3 separate regions of the Homo sapiens genome follow, and regions 1 and 3 are each linked to region 2. Evidence: fine-mapped expression QTL. A gene starts in region 2. Each other region holds a variant in brackets. All regions are shown on one strand. Distances are between the middles of the regions.

Region 1 (8,176 bases), 85 kb before region 2:
TGAGGCAGGAGAATTGCCTGAACCCAGGAGGTGGAGGTTGCAGAAACCATTATCACGCCACTGCATTCCAGCCTGGGCAAGAGAGCAAGATTCTGTCTCCATCAATCAATCAATAAAAATATAAGGAGGAAGCATTTACTGTGTATTTATATGTCTGGTATTATGTGAAGCACTTTACTATCTTATCAAATCTTCGGGACAGATCTTCAGTTCTCATGACCACAAAAGAGGATACTAAAGCTCAGACAGGAGAAGAGACGTGGCCAGCCTGTGTCCCCAGGGCCTATGGTCTTACCACTAGGTTACAGTGTTTCCAGATATCACATGTTGTGAGATTTTTGCTTTAAAATGAACCAAAAAAAAACCAAAGGTGAAAAAGGCATAAGCTATTAAAAAGTGGGAGAAACACTAAGAGAACCTTAAGCATGTAACTAAAAATATTATGGAAATGTTATTGAATTCATTAGCAAATTTAGTGCTAGGTTTTCATTGAGGAGTAGGTTATATTACTCATGATGAAGAAAAATGTTCATTTTAAGTATATTAACATAAATACCATCAATATTGTTTATCATGTTTAAATGTTCACTTAAAGCAATTCAGTTAAAATTCTGCATATCATACAATTTTATAGTTTGCTAGTAGGTTACAAGTAAATAGTCACCCAAATAAAAACATCACGTTTTCCACTGGTTGTTGCTCTTTTTTAGGTGAGTATTTGATGTATACCAACAGAGAGAGGATAATAACAAATCGCTAATTTCTTTCATCACTATATAAAGGTGGCTTCAGGATAGAATAGTAGCAGGGCAATGATGAATTTGAAATCTAACATCAATTCAGTGATGCATCAAGATAAAAGTAGAGACAATAGGGGCACCTTGGAGAGTACTGAACATTTTATTTATTTATTTATTTTGAGATGGAGTTTTGCTCTTTTTGCCCAGGCTAGAGTGCAATGGTGCAACCTCGGCTCACCGCAACCTCTGCCTCCTGGGTTCAAGCGATTCTCCTGCCTTGGCCTCCCGAATAGCTGGGATTACAGACATGCGCCACCACACCCGTCTAATTTTGTATTTTTAGTAGAGACGGGGTTTCTCCATGTTGGTCAGGCTGGTCTCGAACTCCCGACCTAGATATCTGCCTGCCTTGGCCTCCCAAAGTGCTGGGATTACAGGTGTGAGCCACCGCACCCGGATGAATTCCAAATTTAACAAAACAGACTAAGAGAAACAATTCATTTAAAAAAATAATATTTGGCCAGGCATGGCGGCTCACACCTGTAATCCCAGCACTTTGGGAGGCTGAGGTGAGTGGATCAGGAGGTCAGCAGTTCAAGACCAGCCTAGCCAAGATCATGAAACCCCATCTCTACTAAAAATACAAAAATCAGCCAGGCATGGTGGCTGGTGCCTGTAATCCTAGCTGCTCGGGAGGCTGAGGCAGAGAACTGCTTGAACCCGGGAGGCGGAGGTTGCAGAGAGCCGAGATCGTGCCACTGCACTCCAGCCTGGGCGACAGAGTGAGGCTCTGTCTCAAAAAAAATAAATAAATAATTCAATGAAATCCCTAAGATTCAGGGCTTTGCAATAAATATGTAAATAAATTTCCAATCTCCATACTGAAAGTTTAAAAGAAATGCTAACTAATAACTAAAGAAATACAACTTTTCCTCAGCTTTGCAGCAATCTAGAAACAAAGTGTGTAGACACTACAAAGCACCTTACAAGGAGAAACGTGTAAGGATGGCATGACTCGCCGGCAGCCCTGGGCTTGTCCACGGTACCCCCATGATGAACAGTAACTCCATTGTGTAAACGCCCATGAACATAAGATTACAGGACTTTTCCAGTTTAGACATACCATATTTTCTTTCAGACAATTCTTCAGTTTGTTTACATAGATCAGCGATACGATGATTCCATTTCTCTGAAAATCAAGCAAAAGTTGCTTCTCAATAATACGTCCCTATGTCAGAGCAGCACTAACGTATAATGACTGATTTCATATATTTTACATTCTAACAGTCCATATCATTTTACTGCTTTCAAGAAAAAATTTCCCCTTTTTGGTGGTTCTTAGAATGGTTTAATGGGAGACTATTAGAGAAGCTGAAAAGCAGGAGGGCAGAGAAGTTCAATCAAATTAAACACAATAACAGGGAGGTCACAATGAGGCGGTCTCCAGGGGTCTTTTAGCAAACTTCCTAAAACATGTCTCAGCTGTGTGAAATAAGACTTTACAGCAGCCGGGTGCAGTGGTGCAGGCCTGTAATCCCAGCACTTTGGCAGCAGAGGCAGGCGGATCACTTTGAGCTCAGGGCAACATAGCCAAAAGCCCCCTCCCTAGCCCCACCCCCACCCCGTCCCTACCAAAAATACAAAACAGCAGGGCATGGTGGCGGGCGCCTGTAGTCCCAGCTACTCAGGAGGCTGAGGCAGGAGAATCACCTGAACCCAGGAGGCAGACATTGCAGTGAGCCAAGATCACGCCACTGCCAGCCTGGATGACAGAGCAAGACTCCACCTCAAAAAAAAACAAAAACAAAAACACAAGGTTAAGAGGGACCCCCGACCTTACAGATACAAGTTTAAGAGGGACCTCTAAGCAAAAAATGCCAACCCTTTTTCTCCCAATCACTGAAACACCAGGAGGGTGTAACAGTTTTGCAGCCTAGCTGTAGCAGGCTGATGCCCCCCAGATGCCCATATCCTAATCCCGGGAACTGGTGAACATGACCTTATATGGCAAAAGGGGCTTTGCAGATATAATGAAGTTAAGGGTCTTTGGCTTTTGGGGTTGATGTACTCACTCGGATCCTTGTAAGAGCAGAGCAGGTGATGGAGAGGGTGGGAGGTGTAGTGACAGAAGCAGGAAACTCCAGTCATTCAAGACGGGCAGCACAAGCTGAGGAGTGCAGGCCACCTCTACGGCCAGGAAACAGATTCTCCCGCAGAGCCTCAGAAGCCACCAACCCTGCTCCCACCTTGACTCAGAAGGACTTACTGTAGAATTCTGGCCTTCAGACTTGTAAGGGAATACATTTTGGTTGTTTTAAGTCACTAAGTGTGTGGTAATTTGTTGCAGCAGCCACAGGAAACTAGTATTGTAGTGAAGCCTCAAAACCCCCCTGAAGGGGCTGGGCTCAGTGGCTCATGCCTGTAATCCCAGCACTTTGGGAGGCCGAGGTGGGTGGATCACTTGAGGTCAGGAGTTCGAGACCAGCCCAGCCAACATGGTGAAATGCCATCTATACAAAAAATACAAAAACTAGCCGGGCATGGTGGCACATGCCTGTAATCTCAGCTACTCAGGAGGCTGAGACAGGAGAATTGTTTGAACCCAGGGGGGCGGAGGTTGCAGTGAACTGAGATTCCACCACTGCACTCCAGCCTGGGTGACAGAGCGACGCTCCATCTCGAAAACAAAACAAAACAAAAAAACCCCACCTGAAGGTTTCCAGTTCTGCCAGCAGTCTCCCACCCAACCCCCAGAAGCAGACATTCCATTGCTGTGGGCCATGGACAGGCAGAAGGAAGCACCTCCTCATGGCAGAGGCCTACCCAGGAGAAACCCAAGGGAAGGCACTGCTGGGCTGGCCCCTCTCTGCCAAGGCCATATTCTTTTTTTTTTTTGAGGCCAGTTTCACTCTGTCTCCCAGACTGGAGTGCAGGGGCACAATCTCGGCTCACTTCGACCTCTGCCTCCCCAGTTCAAGTGATTCTCCTGCCTCAGTCTCCTGAGTAGCTGGGATTACAGGAGTGTAGCATGCCTAGCTAATTTTTGTATTTCTAGTAGAGATGTGGTTTTGCCATGTTGCCCAGGCTGGACTCGAACTCCTTGCCTCAAGTAGTCCACCTGTCTCAGCCCCGCAAAGTGCTGGTATTACAGGAGTGAGCCACTGCACCCAGCATTTGCCAAGACCTTTGATGGCAGGCTTTTTCCAGGTGATCAGTCCTTGTCTGGTCTGGCTCTGCCCCACTCTCCTTCTCACCTAGTTGGAATCCCTAGCTACTTTTCAGTAGAGGAGAGTGTGTACCCCAATCCCAGCTTGGTTCAGATCTGCATTTAACTCATGGAACCTGGCTGCTCCCCAGGTCCTGAAGGAAAAAACGGTCTCTCTGTGCGTATGATAAAGGATGGGCCTGTCCCCAGGACCCTGTGAGAGGGAAGCCCAATGTCCCACCAGGTTGGCAGGGCTGGGGAAGGGAAAGTGTTATGGCAGCCCCAAGAAAAAAAAGAGGCAGCAGAGGGAGCAGGACAGCGCTCACATGGAACTCATGCCACTGCCTGAATGAGGGGAGGGAGGAGTGCACGCCAGTGACGTCAGGGGGCAGAGAGGCGCAGTTCCAGGGCGGCTTTCCCCCTCACTTCCTGCCATGTTACTCTGATCGCCTCCAGGTGAGCCTGCCCACTTTGTGCCCAGGGGCCTGTAGAAAACCACAGCTCCCCATGGTTATGGCCCCAGGAGTGGGGCAGAGCAGGGAGGAGTCCTGGACAGAGGAGAGGCAGGGGCAGGAGGGAGTGGGCCTCAAACTCCAGGAGGGGGCCCTTCTCATGGGTCCTGCTTTCTGGCTTCTCCTTCCTTACACCTGGGCTGATCACT[T/C]GGGGAAGAACTGAGACAAAGTTTCTCACCCTCAGGCCCAAAGGGTTTAATTACTGGGCCCTTAGGGAGGTGTGAGCCCCCTGAAAGGATGCAAGGTTTTGTTTTGTTTTGTTTTTTGAGACAGAGTTTCGCTCCTGTCGCCCAGGCTGGAGTGCAGTGGCGTGATCTCACCACACTACAACCTGCGCCTCCCAGGTTCAAGTGATTCTCCTGCCTCAGCCTCCTGAGTAGCCGGGATTACAGGTGCCTGCCACCAGGCCCAGCTAACTTTTTGTATTTTTAGTAGAGATGGGGTTTCACCATACTGGCCAGGCTGATCTCAAACTTCTGACCTCGTGATCCACCCCACCTCAGCCTCCCCAAGTGCTGGGATTACAGGTGTGAGCCACCATGCCCGGCCCCAAATTATCTTTTAATTTTAAAGACATACATATTGTTTAAACAAGTCAATAAATAACTATATTGAATAACAAAGTGAAGCCTTCCCTTTACCACAATCAACCTACTGTTCTCTCTCTATCTGAGGCTCTCTTCCTACGTTCCACTGTCCCAGACTTCTGCAAAGTATTTATGTATCTATTTAGGTATCTGTCCATCTTTCCATTCCTTTCTCAATTATATATTCTGGTGGTTTCGCTCTCCACGTGGCAACTCTACATCCAGGATCAAAACGGCATCAAAGGAAGCTTGGAACAGTGACAACCCCTACCTGAGATGTCTCATTCCAGGGGCAAGGCTGCCTGGTGCCTGATACCCATGAGATTAGGAAAAGCAGGTGGGGTCCTGTCCACCCCTTCTATTCCCGAACGCTTGGCAGAGTTCCTGTGGCTAACATGCCAGTTGTATCAACTTCTGCGCAGTCTCATGTGAAGTGCCACACTACGTTCTCAGCCTGGGAGGTTTCAGGGCTCAGCTGGCTCAGATCCCATGTGTGGGGAGCATTAAGAAAAATATGTCACCTGTATAAGACTAGTGGCAAAAATCTGACTCAGTGCTACTTCTCTGTTTGTCCTTTACTTAAAAGGTGAACCATAATTAAAATGATCCAGAAAAGAGAACCAAGCAGGAAACTGAGTTGCTTGGGGAAAGGACCATGCTGCATTGATTTTTACATACCCAATGCCAGCAGTGCATCAGGTACACAACAGGTTCTCAATAAATTGTTAAATGGGTAAGTTGATAGAATAAAAAACAAGGTCTCTTCCCAGTGCTGCATGCAGAAAAGCTCAGTTAGAGTGAATTCTTATTTGCAGAGATGAGAGATTTTTAGTCTTCTGATGGCTGTTTCCTCCTCTCTGTTTTCTTTGCCACAGTTTAGGGGCAAAGAAAAGTTTCTCTCTCTCTGAAATGGTAGGAGAAACCCTTGGGGCTTAGCTAACAAATCAGGCTCTCTCTTTCACATGTTGTGAGAATAGAAATATTTAACCATCAGCACAGACAATGTCATTTGCATAAGGGAGTGACTTCCTGGCTGAGAGATGGTCAGAATAACATACAGCCTAGGAGTGAAGGCAGTGAAGTTTGCGAGCCTAGGGCTCTGGTTCTGGTGTCTGCTTCATGGCTGTGTGATCTTGGGCAAGTTTCCTAAATGCTCTGCTTCTAAGTTTTGTCATCCATAAAATGATAACAACAGTACCTGCCTCAAATAGTGTGTGGAAGAGGCTTAAACAAGCTAATGTAAGTCAAATCTTGAGCACAATCCCTGGTGTAGCTATACATGTTTGTGTATATATCAGAAGCTCGAAATTATACCATTAGTATTAAGAACATACTCTGGACCCTCATTATGCTGCTATTCTCAATATCCCAACACTTGATTTCTATTGACAACTCCTAGGCTCAACTGTTCCGCCCACCTCAGCCTCCCAAGTAGCTGGGAATACAGCCACCACACCTGGCTAATTTTTAATTTTTTTTGGTAGAGACAGGGTCTTGCTATGTTGCCCAGGCTGGTCTCAAACTCCTGGCCTCAAGAAATCCTCCCACCTGGGCCTCCCCAAGTGCTAGGATTTACAGGCATGAGCCACCATGCCCAGCTCCCTTCCTCCCCTTTGCTCTCCTAACTCCATCTCAGCATCCGCCCCTGAGGACAAATGCAACAGGGCAATCAGTACATCCATGAACTTCCCATCAGTCCTGTGGTGGACTAACCCAGGGACAATGGTCACTGTCCCCTCTGGTGCATTCTTTGTCCCCATCAGCCTAGTAAGCTCCGGGGCTGGCAGCTGGCACAGAGTAGGAGGCTGCACTCCCTGACCTTTCTATGCTACACACAGTCCTGTGTCCATCCTGTCCTCAGACCTGCCAGGGCCATGACCAACCTGCCAAGAGTGTGGGAATTGGTATGTGACCCAGCTCTAGGAGGAGGTGGAGCAAGCAAATATAGGGGAAGCTGCTCCCCCAGTAGGTTTAGAGGGAGAGTGGGGTGGGGGCGCAGCAGGGCCAGGCGGGTTAGGGTGTGTGGGTGACATTGTGCAGGTGAGGGTGTGCGGGTGGGGGTGTGTGGGTGGGGGTGTGTGGGTGAGGGTATGAGTGCCTGTCTGGCTCTCCTGGGTGGGGCTGGATGAATGTTTGGGCACAGGCAGCGGCTGTCACATGGCCTGGCTGTGGGTTTGAGACAGAAGCCAGGCAGGTGGGCTGTGTCAGGCACAGCTACAAACTGTGCCAAGGAAGCGGACCAGAGCAGGGGCCCAGGGAAACCTCTGCCTTAGCAGAAGATACTGGGGAGACAGGATCAATCGGGGAGGTCTTCCAAGGCACATGGTGCTTCATGGAGCCAGGGCCCAGGACAGGGAGGGCTGTAACCCTGGCTTGCCTGATTGGCTGAGCACAGACAGAAGAGGGTGTGGGCAGCCCGCCAGGTGGATGCCTAAGTGAGGAAGGAATGGGTGGCCAGGTGACTGAGACCGCCAAGACCAGGACCCCACTGTCAGGCCTGTGGCTTCCCAACGCCTGTGGGAAGTGTTCCCCTTTGGACACTGAGGCCATCGGCTTCAGCTTCACACCCTTTTCCAGACAAAGACCCTCAGGTAACCTCAAAAGTCACTTCTGGCCTTCCCCAGAGGGGAAAGGAGAGGGGTGCCTGTGGGCAGGTGACCCTCAGTGCTGGTGGAGGGCACAGCAGAGAGACTGCCTGCATATGGGAGGCCCCCAGCAGACCTTGCCCAGACATCAACCCTCGTTTGAGGCAAACTGTAAAATTATCACAATTTAGGCCAGGTGCAGTGGCCTATGCCTGTAATCCCAGCACTTTGGAAAGCCATGGCAGAAGGACTGTCTGAGCCTGCAGTGAGCTATGACTACACCCCTGCACTTCAACCTGGTCAACAGAGGAAGACACTGTATCTAAAATAAATAGGCTTGGCGTGGTGGCTCACACCTGTAACCCCAACACTTTGGGAGGCCGAGGCAGGTGGATCACCTGAGGTAAGTAGTTCGAGACCAGCATGACCAATATGGTGAAACCTCATCTCTACTAAAGACACAAAAATTAGCCGGTCGTGGTGGACCGTGCCTGTAATCCCAGCTACTCAGGAGGCTGAGGCAGGAGAAATAGTTTGAACCCAGGAG
Region 2 (8,176 bases):
TCGATCTCATGACCTCGTGATCCGCCCGCCTCGGCCTCCCAAAGTGCTGGGATTACAGGCGTGAGCCACCGCGCCAGGTCGAAAGATGTTTTTTAAAGCTCATTTGTGATGTAGCCTCTGTGGAAAATGGTATGACACTTCCGCAAAAACAGAAATGCCGTATGACCTAGTAATTTCACTTTGTGATGTATACTCTAAAAAAATAGAAAGCCTAAACTCAAACAGATATCTGTACACTCATGTTCATAGCTGCATTATCCACGGTAGCCAAAAGGAGGAAGGAACCAAGTGTCCATTGGCAGATGAATGGATAATGTGGTATATATGTGCAATGGAATGCTAATCAGCTTTAAAAGGAAGGAAATTTTGACACATGCTACAATAAGGATGAATCTTGAAGACATTAAGTGAAATAAGACAATTTAAAAAGGAAATATAAGGATGAATCTTGAAGACATTAAGTGAAATAAGACAATTTAAAAAGGAAATATTGCACGATTCATCTTATATGAGGTATCTAGAGGAGTCAAATTCAAAGACACAGAAAGTAGAATGGTGGTTGCCAGCGTCTGTGGGCAGAGGGGAATGGAGAGTTAATGCTGAATGGGTTCAGAGTTTCATCTGGGAAACAGGAAAAAGGACTGGAGACTGATGCACAACCATTTAAATGTATTTAATGCTACAGAACTGTACAGTTAAAAAGTGTTAAATTTTGTTGGGCATATTTTACCACAGCTTTAAATCCTAATTGTATCGCAAGATAATGGGTAGATAATGAACAGTGGAGCGCCCGCAAGAGTATTACACACACAGAAATGCAAGACTTCAGAGCAGATTATTTTCCTAAGAGCTGGTCTACTTATAATATATTTTTAGGTATGGCTAGTAGTCGTAGATTTAGGACTAAAACGACCAGTTGCCGCCCAACGTGGGGCTCGAACCCACGACCCTGAGATTAAGAGTCTCATGCTCTACCGACTGAGCTAGCCGGGCGCCCGATGACCGTATCTCAACAATTTTTCATTCTAGATCAGAGTCGGAGTGTATTCAACTGCGGGTTTGAACTTGGATTTATTTGGAGTGTGATAAAACTACTAAAGTGCCTCGGCTCCTGGGAAATTCAAACTCTGCCGTCAGTGCCTGACCGTCCCTCCCACTTACGTCCGTTTCCTGCCCCTTCTACCCTACCAGCGACCAAGCCATTTTCTACCCGCGATGAAGCTCACGGCACGGAGATGGAGAAACGTGCACCCTGACGCCACTGGAGCTCTCACCGTGTGGATTTTTTTTTTTTTTTTTTTTTTGACAGAGAAGACTCTCAAAAAATGGGCCTACCTTTCACCACGAACTGCGGCTCTGTCGCCCAGGCTGGAGTGTCGTGGCGCAATCTCGGTTCACTGCAACCTCTGCCTCCTGGATTCAAGCACTTCTCCTGCCTCAGCCTCCTGAGTAGCTGGGATTACAGGCGTGTGCCACCACTCCCGGCTAATTTTTGTATTTTTAGTAGAGACGGGGCTTCTCCATGTTAGTCAGGCTGGCCTCAAACTCCTGACCTCGTGATCCACCCGCCTCGGCCTCCCAAAGTGCTGGGATTACAGACGTGAGCTACCTCACCCGGTCAAGTACCGTGTGGATTTTAAAACAGGAGGGAAAGACAATGGGGCCCAGAGGAGGGCAGGGGCCGCCGCGGTCTTTTTCTACTCCGCAGACTCCACCCTCTGGGTTTTTTCTTGGAGCTCTTCAAACATGCTGGATTTCAAAATTTGAAAGGAAAATCGAAAACAATAATTGAATGTGCAAAACTACACTGGAGATGCCGGGGATCGAACCCGGGGCCTCATACATGCAAAGCATGCGCTCTACCACTGAGCTACATCCCCACCTACTCTCAGCAGCTCTCCCAGATGGTCCCTATTGGTCGCTTAACTCAGGACACCGGGAGTGGAAGGCAACCGGTACGCGCTGGGTCTCAGCCGCTGCAAAAACCCGGCATCGCAGGGCAAGAGTTGTTCCAGCGTCCTCCGCTGACTCCAAACCAGCGGGTCTTGACCAAGGGATTCCAAGAGAGAGGATTAGGCCCGGCTAAGCACCTGGGAGCAGCTGTGGAAAAAGGAGAGACAATCATCAGGCACGATGCCAAAAATGAACTGTGACCTGAAAAAGAGAAGAAAGGAAAATTGTGCAGGATGCTACGTTTTGTTTTTTAAAAGTGGGGGTTGAGGCAATAAAATACGGAATATTTGATTAACGTAATCCAGAATTGTAAAGTTGATTGCTCGGGAGGAAGAAAGGACTGGGACACAGGCGATGGGCCTACTTTCCACCGTGAACTGCGGCTCCTCTTTTGAATTTCGAACCAAGTTTAATCCAAGAAAACCTTACTGAGCTTGCCAAGAACTGCTCTAAAAACAGGATTCAGCCGTGAACAAACCTAGTACAGTCCATCTGAAAGCTGACATTCCAGAGGAGATAGAGTGCGGGCACAGAGCCGGCCCTGAGAAGGGAGCGCGCTAAGAGACGACTTTACACAGTGTGCGCGTTCGGGGCGGGCTTCGTGGGCAGAGACGTTTGAAACAAGACCTGAATGAGGTGGGAGGGAGCATGCAGGTGGTGGGAGAAAAGAGGTCCACGCAAGGGGAACAGCCAGCGCAGAGGCCACGGGGTTCAGGAACAGCAAGAAGATCGGGGACACTGGGTCCTGGAAGGCCCTGAGAAGGGAAGTCGGGAAGGAGGGAGCATCCGGGGGCAGATGAGGTGAGGCGAGGTCTTCGCCTTTGGGTGAGAATTGCTGAAGTTCCCGGTGACATTGGCAAGGGCGGTTTCTGAGGAGGGTGCGGGCGAAAGCTTGATCCAAGTGGCCTCCAGAGTGAGCGAGGAGAGAGGGTGTGGAAGCGGATAACACAGGCAGCTCTGCTGCGGGGCTGTGGAGACAGCTGGGGGACAAGAGAGCGCTGAGGTTTGTGTGTGTGTGTGTGTGTGTGTGTGTGTGTGCGGTGGGGGGGGAATAATACTGAATACAATGGGAAATTATAAATGTGTTATCTGTTCAAATACTAAGTAAAGAGTAAAGAAGCCGGAGGACAGTCGCAGAAAAGGTAATGGAATGGATACAAGGCCACGCTTGCGCGTGAGGGGACAGGACCAGGTTCCAGTCTCTAAATTTAACTCAGCACAGGGCCGGGGCGAACCTGCGCTGGCGGAACCTGACACCGTGGCCCGAGCGCCAGGCCCTTGCCCCGGCGATGCTGGGTCGGCCTCGGTCGGAAACCGGGAGTGGCGCTGGCAGCATTTGTGCGCCCACCTGTCGCGGCCCGTTTCCCGCGGCTGACTGGGTCAGGCTGGGGCGGCCTGGAGAGTCTGAGGGACGGGGGCGAGGGGGAGAGGCCGCTGGCCAGGGCGGGGGCTGGTGGAGCGCAGATCCGGGGCGCAGGGCGCTGTCCCGCACTTGAATGGCCCGTAGTCAACGTGCGCCTCCCCTCCCGGCTCCCAGCCGGGCGCGCCCCGGGCTCGAGTCTCTGCCTGCCCAGTGGCAGCCCCGCCCTTCCTCTCCCAGTGGGCCCTCGGCGCCCAGCTCCGCGTCCTGTGAGGTCCAGTGGCCGCCCAGGCGCGACCAGATCTGGGTGCGCGGAGAGCGCGCATGGCGGCTGTGGGACCGCGGACCGGCCCCGGAACCGGCGCCGAGGCTCTAGCGCTGGCGGCAGAGCTGCAGGGCGAGGCGACGTGCTCCATCTGCCTAGAGCTCTTTCGTGAGCCGGTGTCCGTCGAGTGCGGCCACAGCTTCTGCCGCGCCTGCATAGGGCGCTGCTGGGAGCGCCCGGGCGCGGGGTCTGTTGGGGCCGCCACCCGCGCGCCCCCCTTCCCACTGCCCTGTCCGCAGTGCCGCGAGCCCGCGCGCCCCAGTCAGCTGCGGCCCAACCGGCAGCTGGCGGCAGTGGCCACGCTCCTGCGGCGCTTCAGCCTGCCCGCGGCTGCCCCGGGAGAGCACGGGTCTCAGGCGGCCGCGGCCCGGGCAGCGGCTGCCCGCTGCGGGCAGCATGGCGAACCCTTCAAGCTCTACTGCCAGGACGACGGACGCGCCATCTGCGTGGTGTGCGACCGCGCCCGCGAGCACCGCGAGCACGCCGTGCTGCCGCTGGACGAGGCGGTGCAGGAGGCCAAGGTGAGCGCAGCCCCCACCCACCCCGTGGGTCCCCGGGACCCCCTGACTTGGTCCCGCGCTCCCGCGCACGGGGTGCAGAGAACAGCCTGTCGATCAGGAGGCCCGGGTGAGCCCCTCCCTTCTTTCTCCATTCCAGGAAGCCCAGCGCTGGTTCCCGGGCTGAGCGCGGTTCTCTGTCACCCCCAACATCACCAATACCCCCACCCCACCCCCACTGCGTTTCCCTCTGGGCCAGATACTGGGCCGCCTGCGCGACGTCCCCCACGGACTTGGCGATGTTCTTCCTGTCTGTTCGGAGCCTCTAGCCTGGTCTGCGTCTCCGCAGCTCTCTGCCCGCGGGAAGTCTCCGGCACAGCCACGCAGCCGCTGCCCCCACTCTTATCTCTTTCCCCGAAGCGGGCTCTGCTCAAAGTCCCCACCTCGTGGAACTGAGTGAGAGGACCTCGCCAAGATGTCCAGGGAGGGGGCTCCCGGGTTAAGCCGCGCACCTAGAGCCGTCTGACTGTGCCAACGCTGTCGATTCTGGGGGCCCTTTCTTTGCTATTTTCTCGCTGAGCCTCAGCGAGGGTGTGTGCAGGGGTGAGGGCGGGGCGGGGAGGCTCGGGCGGCAGTCCCCAGTCTCTCCTTGCTGGCCCATCCTGCTCCAACTCTCCCAGCCACGGGGCTTCCTGGTGGGGGGGCGGAGAGTAGAGGAGACGACTAGGGGTAGGGCTGCCGGAGCTTGTGTTTCAGTCTGGCTGGTCCAGCAGATGCTTTTGGGGAAGCAAGATCCCGAGACCTTCAGAGTCACCTCGCAGTGTAACCTGTAGCCTGTAGAGATGACTTCTACCCGGCCTCCCCCTCAGTGAGCAGGGCCTTCCCTTTCTCCTGGCTGGCTCCAGGAAGGCAGAGGTGGGGGTTTCCAGAAGCCCCTCACCCCCACCTTACATTGTTTCCCTTCATCTACAGGAGCTCTTGGAGTCCAGGCTGAGGGTCTTGAAGAAGGAACTGGAGGACTGTGAGGTGTTCCGGTCCACGGAAAAGAAGGAGAGCAAGGAGCTGCTGGTGAGCCAGGCACCCGCAGGCCCCCCGTGGGACATTACAGAGGCCTGAGAACTCAGCACCAGGGCTCGGTGTGTGTGGTGTTGGAGTGTGTGCTATGGAACCGCAGAATCGATTTCAGAAAGATAATAGAGTCCATATTATATAGGGTGTCCACATAATTGTTGTACAAACCAGAGCTTTTTAAAGTGAAAAGCAGTGCTAAAATAATTATTGCAAAACAACTGGCTTAAACTGGAGCTGTCCCAGCGAATCAGGACGCTCAGTCACTCTGATATTACGTAACATACCAGTTAGGGCCTGCGGAAGCATCTTGTAATGGAACACATTACTATTTCTGCAGAGAAACATGGATATTCAATAAGTGGGAATATTAATACAATAAAGAGCCTCATGGCATGTTTTGTCAACAAAACAGTAGTGAAAAAAATTTCATGTTCACAGTGTTTTTATTTGAAATCGAGGCTAACGGAGAAGGGGCTAGAGGGCGTCAGAGCTGCTCCCTGGCTCTGGCAGAGGGAGGAAGTTTAGGGTCTTGGGTTTACAGTAGCCCCTGCTGCACAGCCCAGGGTCTTGGGTACTGGCACCTGCCTCTACCCCAAGTTGGAATGATATTTTATCTTCCTTAGGGTAGAACAGGAAAGTGAAACGAGGGCTCATTTTGGTTAAGATAAGCAAACATGAGGCCTGGCAGGGTGGCTCACGCCTGTAATCCCAGCACTTTGGGAGGCCGAGGTGGGCGGATCACGAGGTCAGGAGATCAAGACCGTCCTGGCAAACACGGTGAAACCCCTGTCTCTACTAAAAATACAAAATAGCCGGGCGTGGTGGCGGGCGCCTGTAGTCCCAGCTACTCCGGAGGCTGAGGCAGGAGAATGGTGTGAACCCGGGAGGCAGAGCTTGCAGTGAGCCGAGATCGCGCCACTGCACTCCAGCCTGGGAGACAGAGCGAGACTCCACCTTAAAAAAAAAAAAAAAGATAAGCAAACATGAATCACCATCGGTCATTTTCTACCTTGCAAATTCAGTTCCTAGCTCAGTAAATAGGTGTTGAAAGAATAAAAGGATTGGCTGGGTGCGGTGGCTTACGCCCGTAATCCCAGCACTTTGGGAGGTCGAGGTGGGCGGATCACCTGAGGTTGGGAATTCCAGACCAGCCTGACCAACATGGAGCAACCCCATCTCTACTTAAAATACAAAATTAGCCTGCCGTGGTGGCACATGCCTGTAATCCCAGCTACTCGGGAGGCTGAGGCAGGAGAATCACTTGAACCCGGGAGGTAGAGGTTGCGGTCAGCCAAGATCATGCCACTGCACTCCAGCCTGGGCAACGAGAGTGAAACTCCATCTCAAAAAAAAAAAAAAAAAAGAATGAAAGGATCTACTAGGACCTGTCAAGGCAGGGAATTGAAGGAAGGTGAACTAGAGGACCCTCCCATCCTCAATGTCAGGAGGGGTGGAGGAGGAGCCTGGAGTTCAGACACCCTAGGGTCCTTTCCAGACCCTCAACTATATCTGTTATGCCTGCACCCAGTGTGCATCCCAGACCTTCCTACCTCATCACTCACTTTCCTCCATGAGGAAGAGCTCACCCTCTAGACCTTCATCCCTCCTCCACTGGAGAAATGACTCCCAATGCAGCTCTTCCCCCACTGGTTGACATCCAGGAACCAGAGGGCCTTCCCTGGCACCGGCGGCAGCTTCACAGTCTCTGACCGGAGTCCCCAGGCCTTGCTTAACACCTTCCACCTCTGTCCTCTCCCAACATCCATCCATCCACCCCCACATTCGTTTTTGTTGTTGTTTTGTTTTGCTTTGCTTTTAGACAGAGTCTCACTTTGTCACAAAGGCTGGAGTCGTTCAAGCGATCCCCCCACTTCAGCCTCCTGAGTAGCTGGGACTACAGGTGTGCACTACTACACCCGGCTAATTTTTAATTTATTTTTTGTAGAGCTGGGGTTGGGGGTAGTCTCCTGTGTTGCCCAGGCTGGTCTGGAACTCGTGGGCTCAAGCAACCTTCTCCCCTGACTTTGCCCCCCTCAGCCTCCCAAAGTGCTGAGATGACAGGTGTGAGCTCTACCTGTTCTTTGCAGCAATAAAATACTTCTGGATTTATGACACTTGTCTCATTTACAATACCCTGCTTAATGAAACATCAGAGGTAGAGCCCAACTATTGCTGCAACACAAAAGGGAGAAGGAATGCTCTTATTTGAAAATGCTCCTACCCCAGGGGACATCTGGCAAAGTCTGGAGATACTATATTTTTGGTTGTCAACAATGGGATAGGGATGCTATTGGCATTTCGTGGTAGAGGCCAGAGGGGCGGCTAAATGTCCTACAAGGCACAGGGCAGCCCCCTACAACCAAGAAGTATCTGGCCCAAAATGTCAACTGTGTTAAGGTTGGGAAACCCTGGCTTAGAGTATTTTGGCAAATACTGTTTCACTTGTGCTACCTCCTTGTGAGGCAACTGGCCGAGAAGCCTGGCTTAACACTTCCTGGTGATGTGTCTGTCTTTTGTCTCCTCACCTGTAAGACTTGAAGGGAAGTGCACCCTCCCCACTGGGCTGCCGTCAGGGTTGAGGGAGTTAATATCCATAAGGCGCTCCAGGCTACTGCAGCCTGCCTGGAAGCTGAAGGAAAGGTGGGGGCATTGTAGGACACCTTGAACCCAGGTCTCCCAACTTCACAGGACTCCCTTCCTCCGCCCAGGAGTTTTAAGGAAGAGGAACTTCCTGGTGGGACATATTGAGTGCCAAACGTGTGTTCACATAAAAAATCAAGAGATCAGGGCATGAGTCTGCATCTGAAAACTCGAGTAAAAAATCCGGTGTATGCTGTTAATGGAAAGAACAGAATATGACACTTGCATGCCGCATATTCTCACTTCGTTCCTTGGGGGTGTGCTGCTACCTCTGGTCACTGGCATCGGACTTTTCTTCCTTCTTTCTACTTTCCTACATCTCCCAAGTTT
Region 3 (8,176 bases), 71 kb after region 2:
TATTTTAGTTACCTTGTTCTAAAATAACTAAGACAATTGTGCTAAAATCTCACATTATTTTTGTGAACTTGTCTATTTCCACTTTTTTTTTTTTTTTTGAGACGGAGTCTCGCTGTGTCGCCCAGGCTGGAGTGCAGTGGCGCGATCTCAGCTCACTGCAAGCTCCGTCTCCCGGGTTCACGCCATTCTCTTGCCTCAGCCTCCCGAGTAGCTGGGACTACAGGCGCCCCCCACCACACCGGCTAATTTTTTGTATTTTTAGTACAGACAGGGTTTCACTGTGTTAGCCAGGATGGTCTCGATCTCCTGACCTTGTGATCTGCACACCTCAACCTTCCAAAGTGCTGGGATTATAGGCGTGAGCCCCCGTGTCTGGCCTATTTCCACTTTTAGTTCCGTCAAATTTCCCTTTGTATATTTGAGGTTATATATGTACATGTGTATATACATATTGTTGCTGTATCTTCTTGGAGGGTTGATCCTTTTGTGAAATACCTTTTCTTCCAGTTTAGCTTAATGCTTTTACGTCTGCTTTGCCTGAATTTAGCATTGACTTCATCACATTTGTTGTTATTGTTGGCTGGGTATGTATTTGTCCCTCCTTTTGTTTTATACCTGTTAATATCCTAAATTTTAAGAGCAAATATTAATATTTTTTAAAAAATTGAGCCTGATATCTTCATCTCTTTTTTTTTTTGAGATGGAGTCACGCCTGATTACAGGCATGAGCCACTGTGCCTGGCCCATCTCTTATTTGATGTATTTAGTCCATTTACATTTAATGTACATGTAATGTCTGGATCAGTTTGCCAGGGCTAACTTATCATAGTACCACAGACGAAGTGGCTTAAACAATAGAAATTTATTTTCTCAGAAGGAAACAAGTCAATTTGGATTAGGGCCCACCCTAAGAGCCTCATTTTAATTTAATCACCTCCATTACACCCATCACCAAATATAGTCACATTTGGAGGTACTGAGGATTAGGGCTTCAATATATAAATTTTGAGGGATATAATTAAGCTCATACCAATATCTGATATATTTAGGTTTAAATCCATAATCTTACTATTTGATTTTTACTTGTCCTACTTTGCTTATCTTTCTCTCCCTGCCTTTTTTGGGGGCACTTAGGAGAGGAACTAAGAAAGTGATATTTGGTCAGGTGCGGTGGCTCATGCCTGTCATCTCAGCACTTTGGAAGGTCGAAGCAGGAGGATGACTTGACTCTAGGAGTTTGAGACCAGCTTGGCTAACATGGTGAAACCCCCTCTCTACTTAAAATACAAAAATTAGCTGGGCGGTGATGCAGGCCTATAATCCCAGCTACTCAGGAAGCTGAGGCAGGAGAATCACTTGAGTCCAGGAGGCGGAGGTTGCAGTGAGCTGAGATTGTACCACTGCACTCACTCCAGCCTGGGTGACAGAGCGAGACTCTGTCTCAAAGAAAAAAAGTGGTATTTGCCATTTATTTCTTCTTTCTCTAATAACTTAGTTATTTTCTTTATTCTTTAAGTGGCGACCTGGAAATTACAAGCCACATACCTCACTTACTGGTGCCTCATATAAAGATGTATTTTTGCTACTTCCTGGCTTTCACGAGGACCTTAGAACGCGTTAGTTCCCCACCACTCCGCCTTCTTTGTCGTTGTTTTTATGCAGTTAGATTCTACACATATCTCAAACCCCACGCAGCCTCACTAACCTGATTTGATATTGTCAATATGCAGATGGATTCACTCACACATTTACCCTTTCTGTTGTTCTCCAGACCCCTCTTTGCATGTCCATCCTCTGGGATCATTTTCCTTCTGCTTCTGCTTGTAGAATTCCTTTTAGGGTTTTGTATTTTGCTCTTTGTTTTGGTTCCTTTTTTCATTTTTGTGGTTTTGTTTTGTTTTGGTGCAAATCTTCTGACAGAAAATACTCTAAAAGTTTTTGTTTGCATGAATTCATCTTTATTTGCCTTCATCTTAAAATAATATTTCTGTTGGAACTATAATTCTATGTGGGCAGTAATTTTATTCCAAGACGTTAAGGGTGCCATGTTAGCTTTCATCACTGTTGTGTGTGTGTGTGTGTGTGTGTGTGTGTTGAAAAGCCTGCTGTTAGTCTTCTTGTTGCAGTGTGTGTGTGTGTGTGTGTGTGTTGAAAAGCCTGCTGTTAGTCTTCTTGTTGCACTTTTTAATGTACTTTGTTTTTTCTTCTGGATACTGCTAACACTTTTCTGTTTGTTTTGCTTCTCAGCTGTAATGCTGTGGTGAGCCTAGCTTGGACTTCTTTGTATTCTTCTTGCTATTAGTTAACAGAGTTTCTTAATCTGTGACTTGATCTCTTTCATCACTTTAAAAAATTGCTCCACCCATATTTTTTTCTTTCTTTTCTTTCTTTTTTTTTTTAATTGAGACAGGGTCTCACTCTTTTGCCCAGGCTGGAGTGCAGTGACACAATCTTGGCTCACTGCAGCCTCAGCCTCCTGTGCTTAAGTGATCCTCCTGCCTCAGTCTCCCAAGCAGCTGGGTCCACAGGTGCCCACCACTGCACCTGGCTAATTTTTAAATTTTTTGTAGAGATGGGGTCTCTCTATTTTGCCCAGGCTGGTCTCCAACTCCTGGCCTCAAGTGATCCTCATGCCTTGGCCTCCCAAAGTGCTGAGATTACAGGCATCAGCCATGAGACCTGGCTTTTACCACCCCTCGGCTTCCATCTATATCTTTTAAAAATATTGTTTCCATCCTGTTCTTTCCTGCCCCTCTACTTTTGGGACTCCAGCAGCACTGAAGTGAGACCTTGCTATGCCCGTGTGTTTCTCACCCTCCCTTCCATGGTTTGTATTCTCTTCTCTCTGTGTTTCAGCCTTGGTTTTGTCTGTTGACCTCTTACTCAGTTCACTAACTATCTGTGTCTAAACTATTGCCAAATCTATCTATTGAGTTGTTTATTTAGTTTTTGATACTTTCAGTTCTAGAGTTTCGTTTTATTCTTTTCAAAGGTTACAGGTGTCTGGTGAAATTATCCGTCTTGGTTTTTTTCTCTCGAGCATCGTGATAACAGTTAATTTAAAGCTCATGAATGGCAACGCCAGTCTGGATCTCCTTTAAGTTTGTTTCTTTTTTGTCTTTTTGAATTTGGTCATTTTATCCTGTCCCTAGAATGCCTGGTAATTTTTTCTTGAATGGCAGACAAATGATGCGAATAATCTGAAGCTGTGGGTAATATCCTTTTCTTCTAGAGAAGATTTACCGTTCCTTATGTGGGGCAGCTAGATGAGCAGCTGGTTTCCTTAAGCCAGTCTGTGGCTGATGCGTGTGAACCTGTGGCTGATCCGCGTGAAGCTGGGTTCAGTCTTTGTGAGAATTCTCTATTTCTGATTAATAATTACTCTTAGTGTGTAGTGTTCCTGGGGTCCTAGCTGGAGGTCAGGGTGTTTTTGAGGTCTCTAAACCCAATTTCTTCCCTCCCAGATCTGTGAGATGACAAGAGGCTTCGCTCAGCTTCCCAGCCTCTGGGCCCTGTGCCAGGGATGAGTCAGCAAATGCCTGGAGAGGAAAAGCACCACCCAATGTCCAGCTCAGCCGAGAACACATCCCCGGGTCTCAGACCCTTGAGTCGTGGCTGTTTCCGCATCTTTATAATCACTTATAAAATATTTCATTTTTAGATTTTATCCAATTTCTCCAATTGTTCTTATCATGAAAGTTGTTCTTATACAAACTAGTCCACAGTGGCTGAAATTTTTTTACTTTTTGATATAATTTTGATTTTTAATTGTATGAAACATGTACTGAAGTCCAATTATAAAATAAAGCACACTTACAGATGTGTAGTTTTAGCGAGGAGTGGCGGCTCTTGCCTGTAATCCCAGCACTTTGGGAGGCTGAGGAGGGTGACTGCTTGAAGCCAGAAGTTTGAGACCAGCCTGGGCAACATAGCAAGACTCATCTCTACAAAAAATTAAAGAATCACCCGGGTGTGGTGGCATGCTCCTGGGGTCCTAGCTGCTCAGGGGCTGAGGCAGGAGGATCTCTGGAGCTCAGGAGAGTGCCCTTGCCTCAGGAGTTGGAGGCTGCAGTGAGCCATGTTGGCACTGCTGCACTCCAGCCTGGGCCACAGAGCAAGACCCTGTCTCTTAAAAGAAAAAAAAAACCTAGTTTCTGTCTCTGTCTCGTACACACATTTCTTCCCTCCTGCTATGTGGAACCGTATTTATTAGTTTGCAATTATCCTTTTATAGTTGATTTTGAAAATGTAAAAAACAACCTTGTCCATAGATTTCCTCCTTTCTCACGGCAGAAGCAGCAGGCTGTGTTCTGTTCTGCACC[A/CCA]TGCTTTTTCCCTCCTTACCTCCTGAAGATCCCTCCAGTGTAGAAGAAGAAACACTTGATGTTCTTTTTACAGTCGTACGGCACTCTGTTATGTGGATACATTACAGTTTACTCAACCAGTGTGGAGTGACCTTCCAGGTTCTTGTTATAGAGCATTTTAGACACACCTAAAACCTGGAAGCATCGTATAATGAACTTCTCTGCACTCACCACCCGGTGCTGGCAATTGGCAGCTCAGGGTCAACACCGTTCCGTCTACTCCCCACCCACCTCTCCCTCTCCCCTTCACAACTGGATTATCTACAAATAAGTTTCAGAAATCACATAGTTTCCTCAGTAAATACATCAGTAAGTTTCTCTAAAATATCAAGAATAAAACATAATAATAGGATGAGCATTTAAGAAGAATTCTTAACAGAGAAACATCAATAATGACATTTCCTGGACATTTATGTGACAGCTGCTGCTTTCATTTTAGTACAAAAATTAGGGGAGGTTGAAAATTTGAATGTCCTAGACAATAATTTTTTTTTTTGAGACAGGGTCTGGCTCTGTTGCCCAGGCTGAAGTGCAGGGGTGTGATCTCAGCTCACTGCAGCCCTGACCTCATGGGCTTAAATGATCCTCCCACCTCAGCCTCCAGAGTAGCTGGGACCACAGACACGCACCACCGTGCCAGATTAAACATTTTTAAATTAAGATACTCATGTAAAAGACAGTGCTTCTATTTATGCAGGGCAGTTCTCCAAATAAATCAGTTCAGACATCCTAGTAACTTATTTGAGAAAAACGGACATTTCAAAGAGTATCCCCACCTCCCTTAAAATCTGAAAGGACACATAATATGATTGCTGTTAGCAGACTCTTCTCCCTTCTCTACTGTGGGACTCCAAGCCCCAAGTTAGTCTTGATTTAGGCTGTGTCAAGGGGACCAACACTGAATTGAATGTGAGATTCAAATTTTGATTTTCAATGGACTGGATTTTAGAATATATAAATGAGCCTTCGTCTTACCACCCAAAGTCACCAGAAAACTCTTGATCTGCATGAGATGTCATGAAGATGTGGAGAATGAATTGTGATGTCTTATTTAAAAGCAGTGGCTGTACAAAAATAAAAGTGTTTCCTTGTTTGCACATGATCAAAAGTTCCCCCTGAATAATACGATAAAAGGCAATACAAGAGCTGTCAGCAGGCCATGGACATACGCTGCCAGAGTGTAGACAGGAAGCCATGGCCGGCGGAGGTCATGGTGGATTGAGTTCCGGAGGAATCTGAATGGAGGTGGGCTTGAGCTCGGTCTTGGGGAATTAGATAAGGCTGAAGAGTAACAGAGGAAGAAGACAGAGGAAGTGCCGGTGGGGAGAAGTGGCTGGAGAAAAAGTGTGAGTGTGGAAAGCGTTGGGTGCATAGGAGGATAGAGGAGAAGGCCGGTGTGGGAGAGGAGTGGGAGACGCTGCAGGTCCAGTCCTCAAAAGCCAGCCTGCCCCACTCCAGCTGCGAGGTGGCCATTCCCTTCCTCCCTAGTCTACCTCTCTCTGCCCCGGTCTTCCTGTGTCTCCCTCATGGCCTCCTCGCCTGCATGTTCCTCAGACTCCTGCCATAGCTGGAAGCTGGATCAGGAAGAGGGCACACACCAAAAGTGTGGTAGCAAAGACACACAAGGAAGTCGAGATTCAGAAGGAACAAACGCCTCTGGTGTCTGAGCCATGTGGCAAGGGGATTTCAAGCACATTGGCCCCTGAGAAAATGGCCTGCTTCCATGGGACATAAATAGCCACAGAGTGACCATAAAATGCATCCTCCGATGTGAAATGCTCTTGAGAGTAAAAGGCAGTGGCAGCATCAGAACCGTGGACTTCAGCCCCATCCCCAGCAGCCCACGAAGACACTGACCCTGCAGAAACGCCTGTCAGGTTTATGAGGATCCCAACCAGGCCCCCAGGCTCCACCCGACTCTCGTGAAGGTGGGGCTGTTCTTTCCCTCCCACGAGGCTGTAGACCCCTTGAGCAAGGACTGTGTCCAGAGCCCCCCACCCAGTGCTTTGCATGTCACGGGTGATGTAGGCTGACTTAATGGGGGCAGGTGAAGGACAGGTGTGGGGTGCAGCGAGGGCCCAAGGGACAGCTGTGACATGGAGACCCCATGAGGGCCCTGGAGGTCGCTGGGAAGTGCTGATGTGTGTGTGGGGGGGCAATGTAGGGCACCAAGAATGTCCTCCGCATTCCTGTATTCCTCTGCCCTGCGTTCCTCCTCCCCCAGCTGGGTTTCCTCACGCTGTCCCCACTGGCCCTGCTCCTGTTCCTGTCCCCAGGTCCCTCTGTGGGTCTTTTTAATTGTAATCTTGGGAGCACCTCTTCCAGGGCTGGAGTCTGTGGGGTCCCCTGGGAGCTGAGGTCTGAAGTCAGCTTCCCCTCTTCACCCCGTGTCTGGGTTCAGTACCTGTGTGGGCAGTGGGAGGCGGTTCTGCCACCTGGCCAGAGCCAGGGTGTCCTGGAGGCAGGTGGGAATCCTGGGTGGGCTCAGGGCACTGCTCCTGGCTCCACCTCTCCTGCCAGCACCAGCTCCTTCCCTGAGCCTGTTTCTCCCTCTGAGAGGAGGCTGTGGTCTGTGTGAGCCTTGCTCTCTGAGCCTGAGGGGCCACTGGAGGCTGAGGGTGCCGTGGGCTCCACAACCCGATGAGTAGTCGGTGCGGGCTGAGGAAGGAGGTTGGGGCTGCGGCTCCTCCTGTCCCCCGACCCAGTGGGAGCAAACACAGGAGGATGAGTGCATGGCTCTGACGCTAGGAACTCCTCCACAGGTGACTCTGCTGAGTTTGTTCCCCTGCAGGGACCCACCCACAGGTGAGTGAGGGTCTTGTCCTGTCGTCCCCTCTCTCTTCCCTGCAGCTCCTGCTCCCATTGCTGGTTCACGTCCCCATTTATCTTGTTCATCAGCACTTGCTCTTCCTCCTGCTGTCTGCCTCCATCAGGGTGTAACTGTTTCGTGTGGGTGTTTGGAGGGGCATCCGTCTTCTGGTGTGATGTTTCTCCTCACTCTTTCTTCTCGTTCTCTTCCTTTGACCCACCTCTCTCTCTTTCCTTGGTGTCCTACTCCCCTTTTCCCGTCCCCCTCCCTCTGTCTGGGTTGGAGACTGGGCTCTAGGTCCCTGGGGTGGAGGATGGTCCACAGCAGGAAGACAAGGACAGATGTGTGGGGAGTGCGAAGGTGAAGGAGCAGGAAGGAGGGGGCTGATGTGGGACGGGGTCCTCCCGTGCCGGGGAGAATATTGCAGAGATGCAGTGGCTTCTTCTATGTTGTGGTTTCTAGGAAGAAAAGTGAAGCCATTAACTAAACACCCAACGGAAAGGTCTGAAATTAGAGAGCAGGAAGATAAGCCAGTGAGAGGCAAGAATAAATTCTGTTGTGTTTCATAATACAATTTTTTTTTTCTGAGACAGGATCTTGCCGTCTGTGTCCTGAGAGGCACAAGTGGCTGGTGCCTCTGAACATGGTGGTAAGGCTGGGAGACCGTTCTTCTGCTGGGGCATCTGGTGTATTTTGCTGGTTGATATGGCTGAGAGGGTGCTTGGTCGCTGTGGGAACAGATTTGCTCCTGTAGAAACCCCCTCCAAATCACACAATGTCATAGCTCTATCATTCAGGCTGGAGTGCAGTGGTGTGATCGTAGCTCACTGCAGCCTCAAATTCCTAGGCTCAAGTGATCTGCCTCAGTCTTCCAAGTAACTGGAACTACAGGTGCACACCACCACGCCCAGGTAATGTTTTATTTTATTTTTATTTTGGAGACAAAGCTCGCTCTGTCACCCAGGCTGGAGTGCAGTGGCGTGAACATAGATCACTGCCAGCTTGA

Evidence for each region.
Region 1: its variant is fine-mapped to the expression of TRIM7 in aorta (GTEx, PIP above 0.99).
Region 3: its variant is fine-mapped to the expression of TRIM7 in lung (TOPMed, PIP above 0.99).

The regions. Positions count from the first base shown.
Region 1 is chr5:181,285,426-181,293,601 of GRCh38, reverse strand. No RefSeq gene overlaps it. Among named protein-coding and RNA genes, the nearest start is that of TRIM52-AS1, 28 kb to the right of the region's middle. The variant T/C (reference allele first, on the strand shown) is at 4,607.
Region 2 is chr5:181,200,572-181,208,747 of GRCh38, reverse strand. It overlaps TRIM7 (tripartite motif containing 7), which reads left to right and starts at 3,552. Exons shown (of 7, transcript NM_203293.3): 1 at 3,552-4,159; 2 at 5,108-5,203. The coding sequence starts at 3,638. It overlaps TRIM7-AS1 (TRIM7 antisense RNA 1), which reads right to left. Exons shown (of 2, transcript XR_001743050.3): 1 at 7,732-8,176; 2 at 5,631-6,160. TRA-TGC3-1 (tRNA-Ala (anticodon TGC) 3-1) reads right to left here and starts at 1,880; the gene lies at 1,809-1,880. It overlaps TRK-CTT2-2 (tRNA-Lys (anticodon CTT) 2-2), which reads right to left and starts at 993; the gene lies at 921-993. RefSeq lists enhancers at 640-729, 1,110-1,169 and silencers at 1,870-1,969, 3,274-3,593, 3,854-4,183, 4,224-4,293, 6,105-6,399.
Region 3 is chr5:181,129,163-181,137,338 of GRCh38, reverse strand. OR2V1 (olfactory receptor family 2 subfamily V member 1) reads left to right here and starts at 6,170. Exons shown (of 4, transcript NM_001258283.2): 1 at 6,170-6,289; 2 at 7,124-7,166; 3 at 7,764-7,819. RefSeq lists an enhancer at 6,883-7,384. The variant A/CCA (reference allele first, on the strand shown) is at 4,323.